Linked DNA regions of Homo sapiens. The protein of the gene in region 1 purifies or fractionates together with the protein of each later gene. This does not show direct contact. Each region holds a gene or a part of one and is shown in the gene's direction. Other genes may lie near its edges.

What was found.
Region 2: the proteins of FUCA1 (region 1) and TIPRL purify together in Homo sapiens (affinity purification with mass spectrometry; 2 studies listed by BioGRID and IntAct, with this or other methods). This does not show direct contact.
Region 3: the proteins of FUCA1 (region 1) and PRKD1 purify together in Homo sapiens (affinity purification with mass spectrometry; 2 studies listed by BioGRID and IntAct, with this or other methods). This does not show direct contact.
Region 4: the proteins of FUCA1 (region 1) and RBMS1 fractionate together in Homo sapiens (co-fractionation; one large-scale study listed by BioGRID). This does not show direct contact.

The regions. Positions count from the first base shown.
Region 1 is NC_000001.11:23,857,323-23,862,607, reverse strand, and holds part of FUCA1 (tissue alpha-L-fucosidase precursor), read left to right. Parts: intron 1-2,704; coding exon 2,705-2,810; intron 2,811-5,285. UniProt on the Homo sapiens protein: Alpha-L-fucosidase is responsible for hydrolyzing the alpha-1,6-linked fucose joined to the reducing-end N-acetylglucosamine of the carbohydrate moieties of glycoproteins.
Region 2 is NC_000001.11:168,184,491-168,189,775, forward strand, and holds part of TIPRL (TIP41-like protein), read left to right. Parts: intron 1-288; coding exon 289-388; intron 389-5,285. UniProt on the Homo sapiens protein: May be a allosteric regulator of serine/threonine-protein phosphatase 2A (PP2A). Isoform 1 inhibits catalytic activity of the PP2A(D) core complex in vitro. The PP2A(C):TIPRL complex does not show phosphatase activity.
Region 3 is NC_000014.9:29,629,647-29,634,931, reverse strand, and holds part of PRKD1 (serine/threonine-protein kinase D1), read left to right. Parts: intron 1-390; coding exon 391-514; intron 515-1,985; coding exon 1,986-2,063; intron 2,064-3,910; coding exon 3,911-4,190; intron 4,191-5,285.
Region 4 is NC_000002.12:160,482,614-160,487,898, reverse strand, and holds part of RBMS1 (RNA-binding motif, single-stranded-interacting protein 1), read left to right. Parts: intron 1-5,285.

The DNA.
Region 1 (5,285 bases):
GGGATTTGTCACTAGTTCTTCACAATGTTTTATCCCCATTTGCCTTTCTCGAGCCTGGGGACTCATAGAGGACGGTAGACCCTTAAAGCTTCAGAGGCAGCTGCCTGGACCCTCACTTTAGAGCAAAGGAAAATCACCTTTAGCCAGGCGCAGTGGCTTACGCCTGTAATCCCAGCATTTTGGGAGGCCGAGGCAGGCAGATCACTTGAAGTCAGGAGTTCGAGACCAGCCTGGCCAACACGGTGAAATCTCGTCTCTACTAAAAAATACAAAAATTGGCCAGGCATGCTGGTGCATACCTGTAGTCCCAGCTACTCGGGAGGCTGAGGCAGGAGAATCTCTTGAACCAGGGAGGCAGTTGCAGTGAGCCGAGATCCTGCTACTGTACTTCAGCCTGGGCTACAGAGGAAAACTTTGTCTCAAGAAAAGAAAAATTACCTTGTATTCAGATTCTATCCAGATGACTTCTCTTAAGAAAATAGTAACAATTGTAAGAGACCATCAGAGACATGGACAGATTTAGAATTACTGAATCTTAGATCCCCACTCTTTTATCGTACTTGGCTATGTTGCCTTGAACAAACTACTTATCTTTCGAGATCTTGGTTTCTCTATCTGTGAAATGGGATAATAGTATATCCTAGAATCATGAGAACTAATGAGGTAATGAGTTTAAATTGCCTAGTACAATTTCTTATACACAGTAAATCACAGACCATCTGTTATATCTTGCCACTTAGTGATCTTCCTAGAGTTTACCTGCCTAATTATGGAGTACAGTGGACAAATGGGCAGATTTGTATTTGAGTTCCACCTCCTGTTACTTACAAGCCTTGTCACCTGAAACAAATTGCCCTACTGAGCATCAAAGTCTTGCTGCTCAAATGAGAATAATAATGCTTACCATATAGGTATATACATATGTATTTATGTATATACACACAACATACATGCCTTATAGGGCTCAGAGTAATAATATGCTAGAGTACAAATGGGGCTCCAGTGGATTCCATAAGTCCTTTACAGTACAGACTTTGGTAATTATCCACAAAAATGCATTTTATGAATAGTTCCAACTCTTAAAACATCTTCAAAGCAAATCTTAGTCTTATAGTCCTGAAGCACCATTTTGTTTCCTTTGCTTCCTTGAAACACCATTCTTTTTTTTTTTATTATACTTTAAGTTTTAGGATACATGTGTACAATGTGCAGGTTAATTACATATGTATACATGTGCCATGCTGGTGTGCTGCACCCATTCTTTTTTTTTTTTTTTTTTTTTTTTGAGACGGAGTCTCGCTCCGTCGCCCAGGCTGGAGTACAGTGGCGCAATCTCGGCTCACTGCAAGCTCCGCCTCCCGGGTTCACGCCATTCTCCTGCCTCAGCCTCCCAAGTAGCTGGGACTACAGGCGCCCGCCACCATGCCCGGCTAATTTTTTGTATTTTTAGTAGAGATGGGGTTTCACGGTGTTAGCTAGGATGGTCTCGATCTCCCGACCTCGTGATCCGCCCGCCTCGGCCTCCCAAAGTGCTGGGATTACAGGTGTGAGCCACTGTGCCCGGCCAGCTGCACCCATTCTTAATTGGAATTAGTTGCTGAAAGGAAACCAAATTGTTTGTATGCTGATTACACCTCCATTTCCTAAAAGGCATAAAGAAAAAAGATTAGGGCAGGCACAGTGGCTCATGCCTGAAATCCCAGCACTTTGCGAAGCCGAGGCAGGTGGATCACTTGCTGCCAAGAGTTCAAGACCAGCCTGGCCAAGATGGCAAAACACTGTCTGTACTGAAAATATGAAAATTAGTCAGGCATGGTGGTGCACACCTGTAATCCCAGCTACTTGGGTGGCTGAAGTGCAAGAATCACTTGAATCCAGCAGGTGAAGGTTGCAGTGAGCCGAGATCACAGCACTGCACTCCAGCCTGGGAGACAAAGCAAAACAGTCTCAAAAAAAAAAAGGAAGAAAGGAAAAGATCAGGAGGAAATATACCAAAATGCTGTGTGTTTTTTTTTTTTTTTTTTGAGACGGAGTTTCACTCCGTCGCCCAGGCTGGAGTGCAGTGGCGCAATCTCGGCTCACTGCAAGCTCCGCCTCCCAGGTTCACGCCATTCTCCTGCCTCAGCCTCCCGAGTAGCTGGGAATACAGGCGCCCACCACCACACCTGGCTAATTTTTTTGTATTTTTAGTAGAGACGGGGTTTCACCGTGTTACCCAGGATGGTCTCGATCTCCTGACCTCGTGATCCGCCCATCTCGGCCTCCCAAAGTGCTAGGATTACAGGTGTGAGCCACTGTGCCCAGCCTGCTGTGTTTGTTTTAAATGGTGGTTTTATTAGCAAACTGGTTTTATTAGCAAATGTTTTCAGTTTTCCACATCCTCTGCACTGTGATAATTTTTATGCCACATACTTTCAAAATGAAGGAAAATTAATTTTAAAATATTTGTTGCAAAAATCAGTCCACAAGTCAAATGCAGTGATGTGCACCTGTAGTCCCAACTACTCAGGAGGCTTAGGCAAGAGGATCGCTTGAGCCCAGGAATTCGAGACTATAGTGCATTGTGATCATACATGTTGATAGCTGCTGGACTCAAGCTTAGGCAACATAGCGAAACCCCATCTCTAAAAAAAAAAATGGTCCATAAGATTTTACTGTGAACATGTTCAGATAATAAGCTCTGTCCTGATCACATGTCTTCCAGCTATAAACCTGATCTGATCTGGTCTGATGGGGAGTGGGAATGTCCTGATACTTACTGGAACTCCACAAATTTTCTTTCATGGCTCTACAATGACAGCCCTGTCAAGGTATGTGATTATATGACTTCTTATTTATCTCCTATGAAGAAAGAAAGTGCAAGGAGCCAAACTCTGGAGTAGACAACCACAGCAGCAGCAATAATAAACAGGAATATCAACATGGGGGCAGTAGGGACTGGGACACTTAATGGATGTTAAAGGTTTCTCCTTTAATCTTCCCTGGCTCCCTTAGAGTATAAGTTTTCTTCTCCTTTAGTGTTGTTTTTTTTTTTTTTTAATTGAGACAGAGGCTCACTCTGTCACCCAGGCTGGAGTACAGTGGTGCGATCTCCGCTCACTGCAACCTCTGTCTCCCGAGTTCAAGTGATTCTCCTGCCTCAGCCTTCCGAGTAGCTGAGATTACAGGGGCCCGCCACCTGGCCGGCTGATTTTTGTGTTTTTAGTAGAGACAGGGTTTCGCCATGTTGGGCAGGCTGCTCTCGAACCCCTGACCTCTGGTGATCCGCTCACCTTGGCCTCCCAAAGTTCTGGGATTACAGGCGTGAGCCACCGCACCCGGCAATCTCCTTTAGTTCTTAACTTTGACAATATAGGTTTAAACAGTGGTAAATTTACATAGTAGACTAAAAATAGTAATTACAATTCCCAGACCACTACAGAAAAAATAAACTCTATTAAGCAAACAAATGTTATAAATGAGAAAACCACCAAAAAGATATTAAAACATATAATAAAATACAAAGAAAACATATAAAAGACATACAGGCCAAGCATAGCAGCTCATGCCTGTAATCCCAGCACTTTGGGAGGCCAAGGCAAGCAGATGACTTGAGTCCAGGAGTTCAAGACCAGCCTGGGCAACGTAGTGAGACCTCATCTCTACAAAAAATAAAATTAGCTGGGTGTGGTGGCACGGACCTGTAGTCCCAGCTACTCGGGAGGTAGTCCCAGCTACTCAGGAGGCTGATGTGGGGGGAGGCTGACGTGGGAGGATCACTTGAGCCCAAGAGGTCAAAGCTGTAATGAACCTAGATCACGCCATTGTACTCCAGCCTGCGTGACAGTGAAACCCTGTCTCCAAAAAATAAAAATAAAGAAAACATATAAGATACACAAAACCTACAAAATTAAATGGTAGGAATAAAATGCAGATGCCTACAATCCCACCTACTCTATGTTGATTTTATAGTTTAACTCTCAAGGGACACACTTACTTCCCTTATATCCAAATCCTTGGGGGAATGTTGCCTACCCAGTACGCCTCCCTATAATCAACACTATGAGGCAGTGCATAATGGCTGCCCATTTACAGTTTGTATTTTAGCGTACTTGCAAAGTAGCGGAAACCCTAATCTTCACTGTAGCAAATTTCACGATTGTACATGTTCTAGATTTGTTGTGGATTTAAAAGGAAAATCTTAAGTGTAAAAGCAGTTTGTACTGAGGTACCTTGGTAGTTCATAAATCTCTAAGGGTCTTGGCCAGGTGCAGTGGCTCACGCCTGTAATCCCAGCACTTTGGGAGGCCAAGGCAGGCAGATCACGAGGTCAGGAGATCGAGACCATCCTGGCTAACACAGTGAAACCCCATCTCTACTAAAAATACAAAAAGAAATTAGCCAGGCGTGGTAGTGGGTGCCTGTAGTCCCAGCTGCTCAGGAGGCTGAGGCAGGAGAATGGTGTGAACCTGGAAGGCAGAGCTTTCAGTGAGCCGAGATCGCGCCACTGCACTCCAGCCTGGGCGACAGAGTGAGACTCCTTCTCAAAAAAAAAGTCTAAGGGTCTCATTGGGTCTCTATTACTAAGCTCAGAAAATGGGAAGAAAGAAAAAAACAGATTCTATATGATGCACAGAGACAGATTAAGAGTGGTTTTCTAAGGCCGGGCGTGGTGGCTCACGCCTGTAATCCCAGCACTTTGGGAGGCCGAGGCTGGTGGATCACGAGGTCAGGAGTTCAGGACCAGCCTGGCTAACACGGTGAAACCCCGTCTCTACTGAAAATACAAAAATTAGGCCGGGCCTAATTTTTACATGCCTGTAGTCCCAGCTACTTGGGAGGCTGAGGCAGGAGAATGGCGTGAACCCGGGAGGCGGAGCTTGCAGTGAGCCAAGATGGCGCCACTGCACTCCAGCCTGGGCAACAGAGCGAGACTCTGTCTCAAAAAAAAAGAAAATACAAAAATTAGTCGGGCGTGGTGGTGGGCACCTCTAATCCCAGCTACTCGAGAGGCTGAGGCAGAGAATTGCTTAAACCCGGGAGGCGGAGGTTGCAGTGAGCAGAGATCGTGCCACTGTACTCCAGCCTGCGCAACAGAGCGAGACTCTGTCTCACAAAAAAAAAAAAGAGTGGTTTTCTGGAACTTGATGAATGTTTGTGACCTCCCAGATGTGCAGTTCATCCCTAGGTAATGAACTCTGATGTGATGTCATATCGTAATTGTCTGCATATCTGTCTCTGCTAGTCTCTGCTGGATCGTTGAGGGCAAGAACTCTGTTTTATTCACCTTGGAAACTCAGTGTCTG
Region 2 (5,285 bases), about 140 Mb from region 1:
TTTGTGCCTAATATGTACTAAGTACCTTAGATGATACAAATAAGTATAAACCTTTAAACCATGTCCTCAGGCTGTATACAGACTAATTGAAAAGACTACATCAGTACATGACAAGTTAAATAATAAATGCAGAAAAACTGTAAGAAAAACCTTGTACTGGTGAATTATAACAAGTGTATATATTTAATAGGATATGTTATTATAGAATATAATTTGATGTGATATATAAATACAGATAATCTCTATTCTGCATCACTGAATCTGATCCTTCTCATTTTGGTATTTGAGGACGGAGGGTGAACACTCCAAAGAGGTTATTAAACCATATGATTGGACCTATACAACAGATTATAAGGGAACCTTACTTGGAGAATCTCTTAAGTTAAAGGTAAATCTTACTTTTTTCTTTCATGAGTCATTGATTGTCTTGGACAGTCTGAGCATTAGAACTTTCTAGTAACGGGTTATTTTTTGCAACTATTTTTATCGTCCTTGTTTTCTGTTGTGGCATTCCTCAGAACCTAATGTGAGGGGGTTTTGCTTGTTGACTTATCAGTAGAAAATAAAAGACGGCATTAGTGGAAAAATTTATTTTTAAAAGTGTAGTTGGTGGCAACGGCAGACGGCCTTGTTGTTATCATTATCACTATCAAGAAACATTAAAATGTGTTTCGGGCCTTGGTAATGTATTACATGATTTAGACAGAACCTGCTAGCTTGTAGCTCACAAGTTTATAGATGAACAAATATATGAGCAAAAAGAACTTCTGGTTAGACAAAGTAGGTTTATGCCCTGTCTGCCCTGAGTATGAACCTGAAATGACTTTAGGAAGTTACTTAATTTGAGTCTCAGTTTTATCAATAAATTGGGTAAACAGAAATATCTACCTCAAAGCAGAGTTTTGATGTGAAATAATTTATGGGAAGCTCTCAATAAATTCTAAAGCTCTATATTAGTATTAAGTCCTGTGTGTGTAAGCCCTGCTTGAGAAGAGATTGGGGCCAGGCGCAGTGGCTCACGCCTGTAATCCCAGCACTTTGAGAGGCCGAGGCAGGCAGATCACGAGGTCAGGAGCTCGAGACTAGCCTGACCAACATGGTGAAACCCCTTGTCTATTAAAAAAAAAAAATTAGCTGGGTGTGGTGGCGCACACCTGTAATACCAGCTACTCAGGAGGCTGAGGGAGGAGAATTGCTTGAACCCGGGAGGTGGAGGTTGCAGTGGGCCAAGATCGCGCCACTGCACTCCAGCCTGGGTGACAGAGTGAGACTCTGTCTCAAAAAAAAAAAAAAAGAAGAGATTCGGCCAGGTGCAGTGGCTCACGCCTGTAATCCCAGCACTTTGGGAGGCCAAAGTGGGTGGATCATGAAGTCAGGAGTTCAACACCAGCCTGGTCAACATGGTGAAACCCCATCTCTACTAAAAATACAAAATTTAGCCAGGCATGGTGGAGCATGCCTGTAGTCCCAGCTACTCGGGAGGCTGAGGCAGGAGAATTGCTTGAACCCGGGAGGCAGAGGTTGCAGTGAGCTGAGATCACACTACTGCACTCCAGCCTGGGCGACAGAGCGAGACTCCGTCTCAAAAAAAAAAAAAAAAAAAAAAAAAAAAAGAGAGAGATTCATGGTAAATAACGCTAGGAAGATGGAATTGGTAGGTCTTATATTGTGAAGTTAGCTGCATTTTGAAATCTTATAGTATGACTGAAAGGAAGCAAATCTGGGCTGGGCTCAATGGCTCACGCCTGTAATCCCAGCACTTTGCGAGGCCAAGGAGGGCAGATTACTTGAGGTCAGGAGTTCGAGACCAGCTTGGCCAACATAGTGAGACCGCACCTCTACTAAAAATGTAAAAATTAGCCAGGCCTGGTGGCGTGTGTCTGTAATCCCAGCTACTTGGGAGGTTGAGGCAGGAGAATCACTTGAACCCAGGAGGTAGAGGTTGCAGTGATCCGAGATCACGCCACTGCACTCTAGCCTGGGCAACAGAGAAAGGCTCTGTTTCAGAAAAACAATAAGTAAAATAAAATAAAGCAAATTTGGTTTAGGTTGAATGTCTCTAAATATCACAGACTATTATATAGAATGAATTTATTTCAGCGTAACCTGAAATATTTATATTAAAAGTAGCTATTGGAAACCCTATGTCATCCGGGCACAGTGGTTCACACCTGTAATCCCAGCACTTTGGGAGGCCGAGGCAGGCAGATCACCTGAGGTTAGGAGCTGGAGACTGGGGAGGCTGAGGCAGGAGAATTGCTTGAACCCAGGAGGCAGAGTTGCAGTGAGCCAAGATCACGCCACAGTGCTCCAACCTGGGCTTCAGAGTGAGACTCCATCTCAAAACAAGGAAACCTGATATCATATGTTGGTGCTTAGGCAGAAATGTTAAGAAGATAGTGTTGTGTCTGGGCCCCTTTTCTCTGCAGAAATTTTTAGAGTCTCATGAAGATAAAAGTTCATAGCAGGAACTTAATGATTGTTATCTTCAGTTTCTGCTATTATTACAGTCCAAGCTTTAACTATTTTTCTGTGCTTCCAGGAAAAAACTCATTCATTCATTCAACAGATATTTCTTGAGCTCTTGCTCTATGCCAGGCACTAATGCTAGGAGCCTTGGATACAGCAGAGCAGACAAAAATTCCTCCTTTACAGTCTAATGGGAGAGCAAGGTTATTTTAGTCCCTTATACTACTTCATAGATTAGTGTTCTCCTCCCTCCTCTCTTCTGATTGAAAAACTTTGTAGAGACCATTTAATATTTCATTGCCAGGAGTGAGGAAATGGGAACTTGTTTTAAACCCATACAATAATGATGATGACTTACTTTGTGGACTGACTTAGGAAAAGCCTCCTGGAGGTTATGAAGCAGCATTAGGTGTGACCAAGTGAGAACCACAGCTGTACAAACAAGGAGTGTGAGAGTAGTAGAAGGCAAAAAGCATTTGTTCAGTACTCTCCTATTGATACTTCAGCCTATAATGTGATTTGTTCTGAGGTGTTGCTGATAAATGTCAATGTGATTACCCACTCACTGGTGGTAATGAGCTCAGGCTTTGGCAAAACACAGATCTGGGTTCAAAATCCCAGCACCATCATTTGCCAGCTTGGAAAAGTAATTTAGTCTTACTTAGCCTTGTTTCAGTCACTTTGTTAAACTAGGGTAATACTAGTTGTGAAGTAGGAAATAAAATTATGTATGTAGGCTGGGTGTAGTGGCTCATGCCTGTAGTCCCAGCACTTTGGGAGGCTGAGATGGATCACTTGAGCTCAGGAGTTCAAGACCAGTCTGGGCAACATGGTGAAACCCCATCTCTACAAAAAATAGAAAAATTGGCGGGTCTGGTGGCACGTGTCTATAGTCCCAGCTACTCAGGAGGCTGAGGTGGGAGAATCAGTTGAGCCCAGGAAGGCGAGGCTGCAGTGAGCTGTGATTGTGCCACTGTACTCCAGCCTGGGTGACAGAGCGACACCCTATCTCAAAACAGTGTGTGTTTTGCAGTAAGATCTCAATAAATGGCAGCTGTTACTATGATAATATAGTATATCAAGTATTAGGGAACCTAAGTTAATATTGTAATACCTAGAATAAAAGTAGATATATTATCTATGGTATATTATTATATTAAATAGCAGCCCAAATGGACTAAGGCCTAATAATTTCAATCACCTCTGGAATCCCTAGTGTCTTTTATTTCAGTTGGTTCTGGGTTATGACATCTAGGCTTCTAATTTGCCTCTTTATTTTCATTTCAGTTCTAGGATGATGGTGTTTTCCTTCAGAGAGGATTTTTGTTTAGTTCTGACAGGCGCTCGAGAATATTCATAGTCAAGGACAGAGCTCTGCAAACTTCTTCTGTAAAGAGTCAGACGTAAATATTTTAGGCTTTGTGGGCCTTAGAGTCTCTGTTGCAGCAACTCAGCTGTGCTATCATAGTCTAAATCACTCATAGACAATATATAAATGAATGGGCATGGCTATGCTTTAATAAAACTTTATGGACAGTGAAATTTGAATTTCATGTAATTTTTATGTGTCATGAAATATTTTTCTTTTGATTTTTTTTCTCCAATTATTTAGCCATTATTAGCTTGCAGCCCATAAAAATAGGTAACAGGGCAGATGTGAGCTGCATGTCTTAGTTTGCCTGCCTTGGTCTAGGACCAGAGTTTGAGGTGTACTGGGCCTGCAGATAAGAAGCTCTGAGGCTGGGCACAGTGGCTCATACCTGAATCCCAATACTTTAGGAGGCCGAGGCAGGCGGAACACCTGAGGTCAGGAGTTCGAGACCAGCCTGGCCAACATGGCAAAACCCTGTATCTACTAAAAACACAAAAAAATTAGCCAAGCGTTGTGGCATGTGTGTGTAATCCTCGCTACTTGGGAGGCTGAGGCACAAGAATTGGTTGAACCCAGGAGCTGGAGGTTGCAGTGAACTGAAATGGTGCCACTGCATTCCAGCCTGGGCAACAGAGCGAGACTCTGTCTCAAGAAAAAAAAAAAAAAGTTCTGAAATCACTATAGCTCTTTAGGGTGTCATCTCTGATTTGGGAGGAAGCAGGAAATTCTCCAGGGTCCTTGTCCTTAGTGAGCACTGAGCAGTGATGGCACCAAAAGCTAGCAGAGCCCAGCTTCTTCTCTGGATCAGCCAGTGCTATGCCTCAGGGCAAAAGCCAGCCAAGTACAGACTTACTTTTCTCGGCTCCAGTCTTTCCAGATCTCAGCCCAGTAACTCCATACTGCCTTGGCCATTTGATGCTTTTAGGAAGTTTTTGGGTTTTTTTAGCCAGCTTTTTAAATTGTCTTCATCAAGAAGGTTTGTCTAGATTACTTATTCTGCCAATACTGTTCCATATGTTTTTTATTTTTTTGAGATAGAGTTTCATTCTTGTCGCCCAGGCTGGAGTGCAATGGTGTGATCTCAGCTCACTGCAACCTCTGCCCCGCGGGTTCAAGCGATTCTCCTGCCTCAGCCTCCTGAGTAGCTGGGATTACAGGTGCCTGCCACCACGATCAGCTAGTTTTTGTATTTTTAGTAGAGATGGGGTTTCACCATATTGGCTAGGCTGGTCTCAAACTCCTGACCTCAAGTGATCCGGCCGCCTTGCCTCCCAAAGTGCTGGGATTATAGGCATAAGCCACCGCGCCCAGCCCATATGTTTTATATTTAGCTGGTTATTTTTTTTTTGTTGTATTTTTTAGATCCCTGGGTTCAGAGAGAGATATGTGGAGTTGAGGAAGAGAGCTGAAAAGTATAAAGTTTTAGACATATTTAGCCTTGCAA
Region 3 (5,285 bases), on another chromosome or scaffold:
TCCCAAGTAGCTGGGATTACAGGTGCCCGCCAACATGCCCAGCTGATTTTTTTTGTACTTTTAGTAGAGACGGGGTTTCACCATCTTGGCCAGGCTGGTCTTGAACTCCTGACCTCGTGATCCACCCGCCTCGGCCTCCCAAAGTGCTGGGATTACAGATGTGAGTCACTGCACCCGGCCAGGATTTTTTAAGGTGTACAAACAACGTGCCTATCACTCTTCAGAGTAACCCACTTTCAGAACCATGGTGCCTGACAATACGTTTTACTAAACATGAGATGTGAATTTTGTAAAGTTTCACTTGGATTAGCTGACATAAGGTTTTATGCATGAAAATACATAAAATGTACCTGAAAACATTTTTTCCCTACAATATTTTGACTTCTCAAGTCCATCAACAAGCAACAATATCCCACTCATGAGGGTAGTGCAGTCTGTCAAACACACGAAGAGGAAAAGCAGCACAGTCATGAAAGAAGGATGGATGGTCCACTACACCAGCAAGGACACGCTGGTAAGATCCACAGGGAACAATGTTCTCTTGCCTTGCTAGCTTTAATTAGAGGAGTTGCTAATGTCCCGTGAGGACTGTGAGATTTCTGCATTACTCAGAGTAAACCTCAGCACAGGCATGACACGGGATTAGGTAAGGTGCATTACAGTCTCTGGGTGTCAGATATAGTTGAGCAAGCAACGAAGTTAGGAAAAAGTGTGGAAAGCAATTTCAGGCAAACAAATTCATTGACCTTGATTACCTGAGATGTCTACCTGCCATTTTATAGCACTTGTGGAAGCCACAGTATGTGCTTTCAGAATGCTTCACTGCAATTTAGAATTTTATAGGAAACACTGCATTCTAGGCAGAGAATAAAACAGTGATAACTATCTTATACTTCGTAAGTCCTTAACTAAGTTTTCCCTGAAGAACTGACCCATTCAGGAACATTGGAATCCTGTACCCTGAGATTTTCTTAATAGTTGAGGAATGAGGTTGTGTACGTACGTAAGAGAGAACAACTTGATTCACGTTTCAAAGTTAAGTTGACAATTGACTGATTTCTGTTACTGTATTGCTTTTCTCATCTCTTACCTATAGGATCACTACAGATAAGCAGACACCTATAACCTAATTGATCTATCTATAATTTCGACCATCTGTGTTAGAGAGAGAAGACCTACCTGATATTATAGGACTCAATTGAATACCGCCTAGTTCTTTTTAGACATGGTGTAATATATTTAATATATTTGACTGGCCTAAAATTGGTTGTGGAGGAGAAGAGCGGAATCATAGAGCTTTGGGGTCTTTTATAAGATAAAAATACACACACACCCTAAAATCCTGAAAGATATACCTACAGTGTAGAAGGACCTGTTCATCAAATCATAGTGGTTAGATCTGTAGTGAGCTGGAGAGAAGGTAGAGTTGGTTGTTTGATGCATTCCCCTGACTTTAAGTTGATGTCATGGAGTCAAACTTATTGTCCAACAAAATATTCTTTACTTCTACTCTAACATTCAGAATTTTCCCATTGCCAATGGAAGCAAGAATACCTGGCTCCATCAGCATGGGATTTCTTACGTCCTAAAATAATGAGCATGCATAATAAACATTGCATCTCCTAGTAAACCTTATTTTATTATAGACTATACATCCACCTTTAGCCCTTCAAGCAGTGAAATAAGCTTAAAAATGATGTTTTCTGTTTACTATGCACTTTCTAAATGCCAGGCTCTTACTGGGCGCTAATACTTCATCTTCTTTATTACTCACGACCCTGTAACATAAATGCAGATACTTATCAGACATGTGCTAAATAGTCAACCTCTAGAGCCTGAAATTGAGCATGAGTCTGCCTTTCCCAAAGCCCATGCACTTTCCACCCTCAAATCGCATGTCCCTATTGGGGAAATCTATTTATGTTTTCAATTGGGGATATTTTTAAAGTTTTTTAAAAAGATCTTGGATCTAACTTCTGTTTCAGCGGAAACGGCACTATTGGAGATTGGATAGCAAATGTATTACCCTCTTTCAGAATGACACAGGAAGCAGGTACTACAAGGTAAGAGTGGGCTCTTTCTTTGTAGTTTCATACCTCTTATTGCTTTTTCATGGGAATGTAGAGTATAAGAAATAGGAAATACATCCAACAAACGTGGCTATTTTTGTGCTTCCTCCAGGAACTATTTTTTTTTTCTTCTCTATAGTCTACAAATTTCTTGGGATTCAGGTTGGGACCTCTTGATTCTTCTGTGAATTTTAAATTTCCCTGGGGAGTGTTTCTGGTACCATGGGATGATGGGAGAGGGAGGGAGGTGAAGATTAATTGAATATGTTAGCAGAGAAGTGTGATTTAACTAGAAAATTAATGGTCACAGCAGATCAGCTCAAAGTAAACTCCTGATATCCACTGCATCTAGCACACTGCTAGGAGTGAAGAAACATTGTATGATTTCTCCATGCTTGTCAATATTCACAAAGAGCACTTTCCTCTAGAGAAAAAAATGGCAGCAATTTTTATTCTGTCCCTCTACATTAAGTAATACAGATGTGGCATACTATATCACCCAGTAAAACACAACTCCAAAAAAAACTTCATAGAGAAAATAATAGATACTTGCTCCTTCAAAATGAATGCAGACTCTGGAATAGTTGATTTGATTCTCCACAGCCATTTTACATAGCTGTCACAGAAAATGGAAACCTCACTAATTTTAAAATTAAAACTTTGTTTTAAAAGTTATTATTTTTTAGCCCCTGCATACTTCCTGGAAGATGCAGTAGTGATTTCTTTTTTTTAGTATGAATTGCCTTAAAAATGATGACTATTGGCCAGGCGCAGTGGCTCATGCCTGTAATCCCAGCACTTTGGGAGGCCGAGGCAGGTGGATCATTTGAGGTCAGGAGTTCTAGACCAGCCTGGCCAACATGGTGAAACCTTGTCTTTACAAAAATACACAAATTAGCCAGTCGTGATGGGATGCACCTGTAATCTCAGCTACTCAGGATGCTGAGGCAGGAGAATCACCTTAATCTAGGAGGCGGAGTTTGCAGCGAGCCAGGATTGCACCAATGCACTCCAGCCTGAGCAACAGAATAAGTCTCTGTCTCAAAAATAAAAATAAATAAATAAAAGGCCAGGCGCAGTGGCTCACCCTTGTAATCCCAGGACTTTGGGACACCGAGGCAGGCAGCATGAGGTTAGGAGTTCAAGACCAGGCTGGCCAACATGTTGAAACCCTGTCTCTACTAAAAATACAAAAATTAGCCAGGTGTAGTGGCAGGTGCCTGTAATTCCAGCTACTTGGGAGGCTGAGGCAGGAGAATTGCTTGAAACTGGGAGATGGAGGTTGCAGTGAGCCGAGATCACGCCACTGCACTCCAGCGTAGGTGACGGAGCAAGATTCTTTCTTGGAAAAAAAAAAAAAAAGACCATTTTAAAACCAATCTCTAGTTGTCCTCACTTAAACTATTCACTTGGCTATGTTATTACATTAACATGTATTGAGTGCCTTAAAGAATAGGTTAAAATTTAAAAATAGCCATGTCTGCCTAAATGCATTTCAAAAGTGTTGTGATTCTACCTCACTGTTACAAAAATTATCGCTTATTTTCTAAGTCTTGGATTTTGGTGAAGATTCAAAATCATTTTTCCTAACCATACTGATTCTCGCCACATGAACATAGCATAAAAAGTCACATTTTCTAGAAAAAGGAAATAAGGTTTCCCATAGTAAAGGTATTTTTTTTAATTTTGCTTAGCAGTATTCTGTGTTTTATAGTTTAAAAGTATTTTATTTAAATGGTGGCTATTTGTGATGTCATTTTTCACATGTTCTTGGCATGAATTTTCTTTGAAAGTTTACATACTTTTGATAAACAACATTTAGTACTTTTTTTCTTTCACAGGAAATTCCTTTATCTGAAATTTTGTCTCTGGAACCAGTAAAAACTTCAGCTTTAATTCCTAATGGGGCCAATCCTCATTGTTTCGAAATCACTACGGCAAATGTAGTGTATTATGTGGGAGAAAATGTGGTCAATCCTTCCAGCCCATCACCAAATAACAGTGTTCTCACCAGTGGCGTTGGTGCAGATGTGGCCAGGATGTGGGAGATAGCCATCCAGCATGCCCTTATGCCCGTCATTCCCAAGGGCTCCTCCGTGGGTACAGGAACCAACTTGCACAGTGAGTCTGCCAGTTTTCTAACCAGCCCAAAGCTCATCATGTGCCTACCCCTTGCTTAGTAAACATGTGCCCTGCCCTTCCTAAGAACAGAATGAAGAAAGACTTCTTGGGGATGACTTAGTTTATTGTAGAATGTAGGGTGTCTAAATAAAAGCTGCTGCACATACTAAGATGTTTAGTTTGTTAAATTATCCTATTTTATTATAGCTATTTTATATTAAAATTTAACAAATTCAGGTAAACACTATGTATTAGGCAATTACAGACCTCTAGAGCTATTGGTTATAAAAGAAGAAGTAATCTGGCCGGGCTCAGTGGCTCACACCTCTAAACCCAGCTCTTAGGGAGGCCAAGGTAGGTGGAGGACTTGAGCCAAGAGTTCTAGTCCAGCCTGGGCAACATGGGGAAACCCTGTCTCTACAAAAAATACAAAAATTAGCCAGGCATAGTGTCATGCGCCTGTGGTCCCAGCTACTCTGGAGGCTGAGGCAGGAGAATTGCTTGAGCTCAGGAAGCATAGGTTGCAGTGAGCCAAGATCAAGCCACTGCATTCCTGCCTGGGCAAGAAAGAGGAGGAGGAGGGGGAGAAGGAGGAGGAGAAATCTAGCCAGCTTCAGCTTGACATGGAATGCAAGAGAAGAAGAAGAAAGGAGAAGGACATGAAGAGGAAGAGGAAGAGAAAGAGCAAGAAGAAAAAGAAGAGGGAGAAGAAGAAGAAGCAGAAGAAGAAGGAGAAGGAGAAGAAGAAGAAGAGGAGGAGGAAGAGGAAAAGGAAGAAGGAGAAGGAGAAGGAAGAAGGAAGAAGAAGAAATCTAGCCAGCTTCAGCTTGACATGGAATGCAAGTCTTGTTATTTGCAAATCTGAATTAATAAGTTTCCCTAAAAACACCTCACCTAGTATTCTGTGCAGGGTATTGACGTGCAGAGTACATGGTAATTGGTAATTCTTGATCACTTTATCCCAGGAAGAATTCTCTGTTCATTAGTAGAATGAGATACATTTGCTAAAATGCAACCTAGATTCAGTATTGAGGATAAATTTTAAAGAAGAAATTTTAGAGGAATATTTCTATAAAAAAGTCATTTATTTTTAAA
Region 4 (5,285 bases), on another chromosome or scaffold:
TGAGAGAAAAACAAAAAGGAGAGAGAAAAAATCAACATCTGAACCTCCTAGGGGAGAAAAGTGTATAAAATTAAGCATTGTTATTCTCTCCCCATGTTGTCTCTTAACTAATTCTTAAATGGATGCATTTTAGAAGATTGAGAATATGTTGGACATTGAATATGAAAACCTAGATTCTAAAAGTGAGGTTGGATGCTGATATGAACAGTTAGCTTGCATGTAGATCTGGCACTGTAAACATGCTAAATCAATGTTGGTGGGTGATTTCCTACATTCACTATAATATCTGTGTTTTGGATTAGGTAAAGATTTAAGCTGGTAGTTGTTGTAAAATTGCTGAGGCTCATGATGAAGGACTAAAACACTAGCCAATCAATTGTATTTACTGAGTGACCCCAGTACATCATTCTTTGCACTTGACATTGGGAAAGTTTAAAGAGTTGAATATCTGGTACCTGCTCTCCAGCACCTCACAAGCTACCAGGGAGGACAGAATAGACACAAGGCAAGAAATAAGCACAGAATATTTACAAAGTAGTGCACCCACGAAAGCAGCACACCAGCTGATGTCCTGGGTTTTAGTGACTGAGAAGGCACTAAGATATATGTAGGATTAAACACTTTGCCATGTCTTTTGCAAGAAAGTGAAAAGTGCTAATAAAAGCTACAATAAATCTGGGAATTTTAGAAAGACATAAGGCTTTAAATGAATAAATGAATTTTTTTACTTACCAGCATTGTTTTGCATTTTTTCTGCTGTATAAATTCTTTTAAGAGTACTTAGAATTTTAAACGAATAATTTTTTTGTACTTTATGTTAACTTCTCCTTAAAGTTTCATATTCAATTAATTTATTTCACCCTATTATTTTTCTAGTTTTATGCTTACAAATGTGCTGTTAAGCCAACCTATTAGAGGTGTGGCAGGTTGGAAATGTACTCCTTAAATGATGGCATAGTGGTTATACAGAAATATAACTTTGATTGTTTTGAGCCATTTGGAATGATGTTTATTTCTCCTAACTGATTAGCTTTGCTTCCGGCAAAGGGGAGGAAATAAGTTTGGGGTTTGTAATGCTGCTAATTAGATCATTGCTTGCCTGCAATCTACACATTTATAATGTGTCTAATGTGGGCTGGCATTTCTTCAGAAAATAAGATGTTAAAAAATTATTCCTGATCTTTAGTGGATATCTCTTTATCTGGTCATCAGCCAGCTTTAATTCTTTCAAAATAAGATATTCACCTCTGCAACTGGATCCAAGTGCTTCAGGAGTCCTGTTGTCCTCTACTTGGCCTCAATATGGGCCCTGGAATCCATTCCTCAGGCTGCCCATTGAACAACATGCGCTATGCAGTTGGGCTGCTGGGTCCCAGATAAACAGTGATTTCAGGGAAAGGTTTTGTGCAACAAAATGAGATCATTTCATAGATGTCATAAATATTTTCACTGGTCCTGAAGGAAAAATGCATCATCTTCCCAGACCCATTTCACACAATACTAGAGGTGTTTCTTCTACAAGTTGAAAAACTGAATACTTAGAATGGCAGAATTGGATGGATACATCATAGAATGCCATGCTCCGAACTTGAGTTTCTTGGACTGGGGGTGGGGGGTGGAGGACAGGGAATCAAATTGCGAAAACAGAATTTTATATTATGAGCTTACATTTATATTATCCTCAAATAATACTATACTATTTCCCCTGTTAAATACTTTTTAAACATGATGATTTTGAGTTGCAATTGGGAGTATATTTGAATTGGAGAACCCCTAAACCCTCCCTTACCAGTAGAATTACAATGAAATACTTTCACAGTTTATATAATAAGGTCTCAGATAAAATATTTAGTCATTAGGAAAAGTAAATTATATTGATATTTGTAATATCGTCAACTTTACCTTTGTCTTCTCAACAACAATTTCGTTTCATCATCCAACAGGTTTTTGACAAATGCAGACATTTATAAAAAGAAAAATTTGCCAGAAAAATGTATTTTCAAGTCACTAGCTGAAATACTCCCACGACTCTCTTTGCCTCCTACAAAGTACAGCTCTGATTAATTTCATTGTTTCTAAAATGACATTCTTTTAAAAAGGTGCCTAATCTCAGCCTCTTTTTAGGTTTCATTCCATATGATCATTTGTATACTTCTATTTAAAAAACAATAAACACAGAAAGAATTACCTATCAGAGAACTGGCTACTAGATGATGTTTTTCTCATGCTCTATGTGATTTGTTCAAAAATTGGGTATACCTTAACTTATAAGTGAGTTGCATTTCCAACAATTTTATTCCAAACAGTTCGCTTGTCATTTGGTTATTTAAAACTTGAAATTCATTTCATAAATAAATAGTTATCCTTAATGATATGGTCCCCAGCGAACCTGTAAGAGTCTGTAAAAGTAACCCACTTTATAATTCACGTATAGTTCTCTACTAACACTGCCATTGAACCAAATCACCACATCAGATGTTTCTTGGAGAGAGGGGTGAGTTTTCAGAGTTAGATTTCCAGGAACTCGTCTTTGCTTTCTTTGGGTGAGTGGGAAGACAGGGTTCTTCTACAATCTTTCAACAAGGCTTTGCCCTTTTATGGCAGGGGAGGGGTTTCAAGAAGATGGGAGGTGCAGCTTGTGAAGTCACAGGGATCAGGGAGTTTGTGCTGGAGCTTCCTCTGGGGGTCCCCTGAGAGCCCTCTTCACTTCTAGACCCACTCACCTGTTTTCTTGTGCTGGCCTCAGAGATAAACTCGTTCCCTTTTCCCCCTAATTAAAATAAAATCTTTTCCTTTTAAGAGCCGAGGGTTCCTAGTACTGCTTCTCATGCTGAGCTTACCACTACTAGATTACTACAGCCTCACAGCTTTTCTTTACTCTCCTTCAGCCCTGAATCAAGCAAACATCTCTTGAGGCTGGCAACCAGAAGGAAACAAAAAGACAAAGTAAAAATTCTGTCTATCTCTTCCAATTCTCTTTTTACCTTTTCCTGGTTCGTTGATGCTTCGTAAATTTTTTTTTTTTTTTGAGACGGAGTCTTGCTCTGTCGCCCAGGCTGGGGTGCAGTGGCACAATCTCAGCTTACTGCAAGCTCCGCCTCCCGGGTTCACGCCATTCTCCTGCCTCAGCCTCCTGAGTAGCTGGGACTACAGGCGCCCGCCACCATGCCCGGCTAATTTTTTGTATTTTCAGTAGAGGCGGGGTTTCACCATGTTAGCCAGGATGGTCTCGATCTCCTGACCTCGTGATCCGCCCGCCCCGGGCCTCCCAAAGTGCTGGGATTACAGGCGTGAGCCACCGCGCCCGGCCAATGCTTCGTAACTTTTTAGGGAATCCCCAGACCCTAGACCTCCTTGAGAATCCGATGATGGCGTACATTTTTTTGTTGTTGTTGTTGTTGTGACGGAGTCTCGCTCGCTCTGTCGCCCAGGCTGGAGTGCAGTGGCGCGATCTCGGCTCACTGCAAGCTCCGCCTCCCGGGTTCACGCCATTCTCCTGCCTCAGCATCCCGAGTAGCTGGGACTACAGGCGCCCGCCACCACGTCCGGCTAATTTTTTGGATTTTTAGTAGAGGCGGGGTTTCACCGTGTTAGCCAGGATGGTCTCGATCTGCTGACCTCGTAATCTGCCCGCCTCGGCCTCCCAAAGTGCTGGGATTACAGGCATGAGCCACCGCGCCGGCCTATGGCGTACATTTTTATTAGCCTCAAATGTTTACCTAGAATCAGCCTGTGGAGCACAGGTTAAGAATCTTACCCAGGGTGGGGAGCAGTGGCTATGCCTATAATTCCAACACTTTGGGAGGCCGATGGGGGAGGATTGCTTGAAGCCAAGAGTTCCAGACCAGCCTGGGCAACATAGTGAGACACCGTCTCTTAAAAAAAAAAAAAAAAAAGAATTTTATCCTGGAAGGAAGACAAATACTGAACAAATCTATGCTTAAGAGGATGAATCAGACAGACCAGAGATCCCTTCATGTTTTTTTTCTGGGTTGTAGCTCAACAGACTCTGTGATGAAGAGCTGCACAAAAGCCAGTGTCCTGCAGAGTGGGCTTGGGTGGCATGAGGTCCATACCCCTATCCAGCAAGGGTCTGAACAGTTTCAAAGTGTGTTTACTTTCTCTCTTCTTCACTCCTGTTCTCCAATTTGCTTCTTGTACTCTTAGAGTTAAGCCACTCTGGACTGACTTCTGTCCACTAACAGGTGTGTGTGATAGTGGTAGATGCACCAGTGTGACCATCGTATAAGCTACTCCCACTCCATCTGCCGGAATCAGGGACCAAGTGGGTCTGACAAAATTTGGCTAAAAAATCTTTACTACCTCTTAATGCTGTAGATTATGATTAAGTATTTGCTAACAATTGCCCCTGATTTGGGTTTTCTCTTCTGATTCTTTATCCAATTTTATATGGAAATTTTAAATAAAATTTTATTTGGTAACGTATAAGTGTGCTATGGAACCATAGACATGATGTAATACTTTGAACAAAAGTACTTAATTAGCATAATAGGAAGTATTTTTATGATAAATGTATACTCCTAATGAGATTGAAACTTAAATGTGATAAAGTCAAATAGCAAGCAGTTTACATTTTTTTCTTAACCCATACTAAAATTGAAAATTACTTATAACCATTTTTTCTACTTTTTGAATACTAATTATTCTTTACCTAAAAAATAATCACAAAAAAGTTGTGTTTTTTCAATTGGCAAAAACCTAAAAAAAGATGTGTTTCTTATTTGGTAATTGTTTATCAGACTTTAAGTTTAGCAGAAGAAATCTTTAACCTTGATTTTGTTTGCTTTTTTTTTTTTTTAAGAGAGATTATTTTTTAACCTACAAATAGGATTTAAAATGACAGTGGGTGATATCTGGTGTTCTTTTCTACCTCTCTCTGTCTCTGTCACAAAATTCAAATACATGTTTCAGCAGTACAGGATGTTCTTCAGTACACATCCTTTGAGCCTTCAAAATTTGATTTGACTGTGTGGTCTGACGATAGCATGTTGAGATAAGTACATTGTGATAGTAATCTGTGCCTGAGCCCTAATGAGCATCTGCTTTCTAGGGCGCCACAACAGCACCTTTCTTTGTTTCCTCTTCCTTTGCTTCTTTGATTTGAATCTTGTTAAATCCTGCAAATGGGTCATTTTTGTTTGTTTTTCAGTATGCAAATCCTCCTAGCTCCCTTTTTTGGGGAAAAAGAAGCCAGATATTTTAAATATAAGTGAATGCACTGGGAATTTTAAAGGAGTCTTCAGGAAGTGCACAGCCATAGTTCT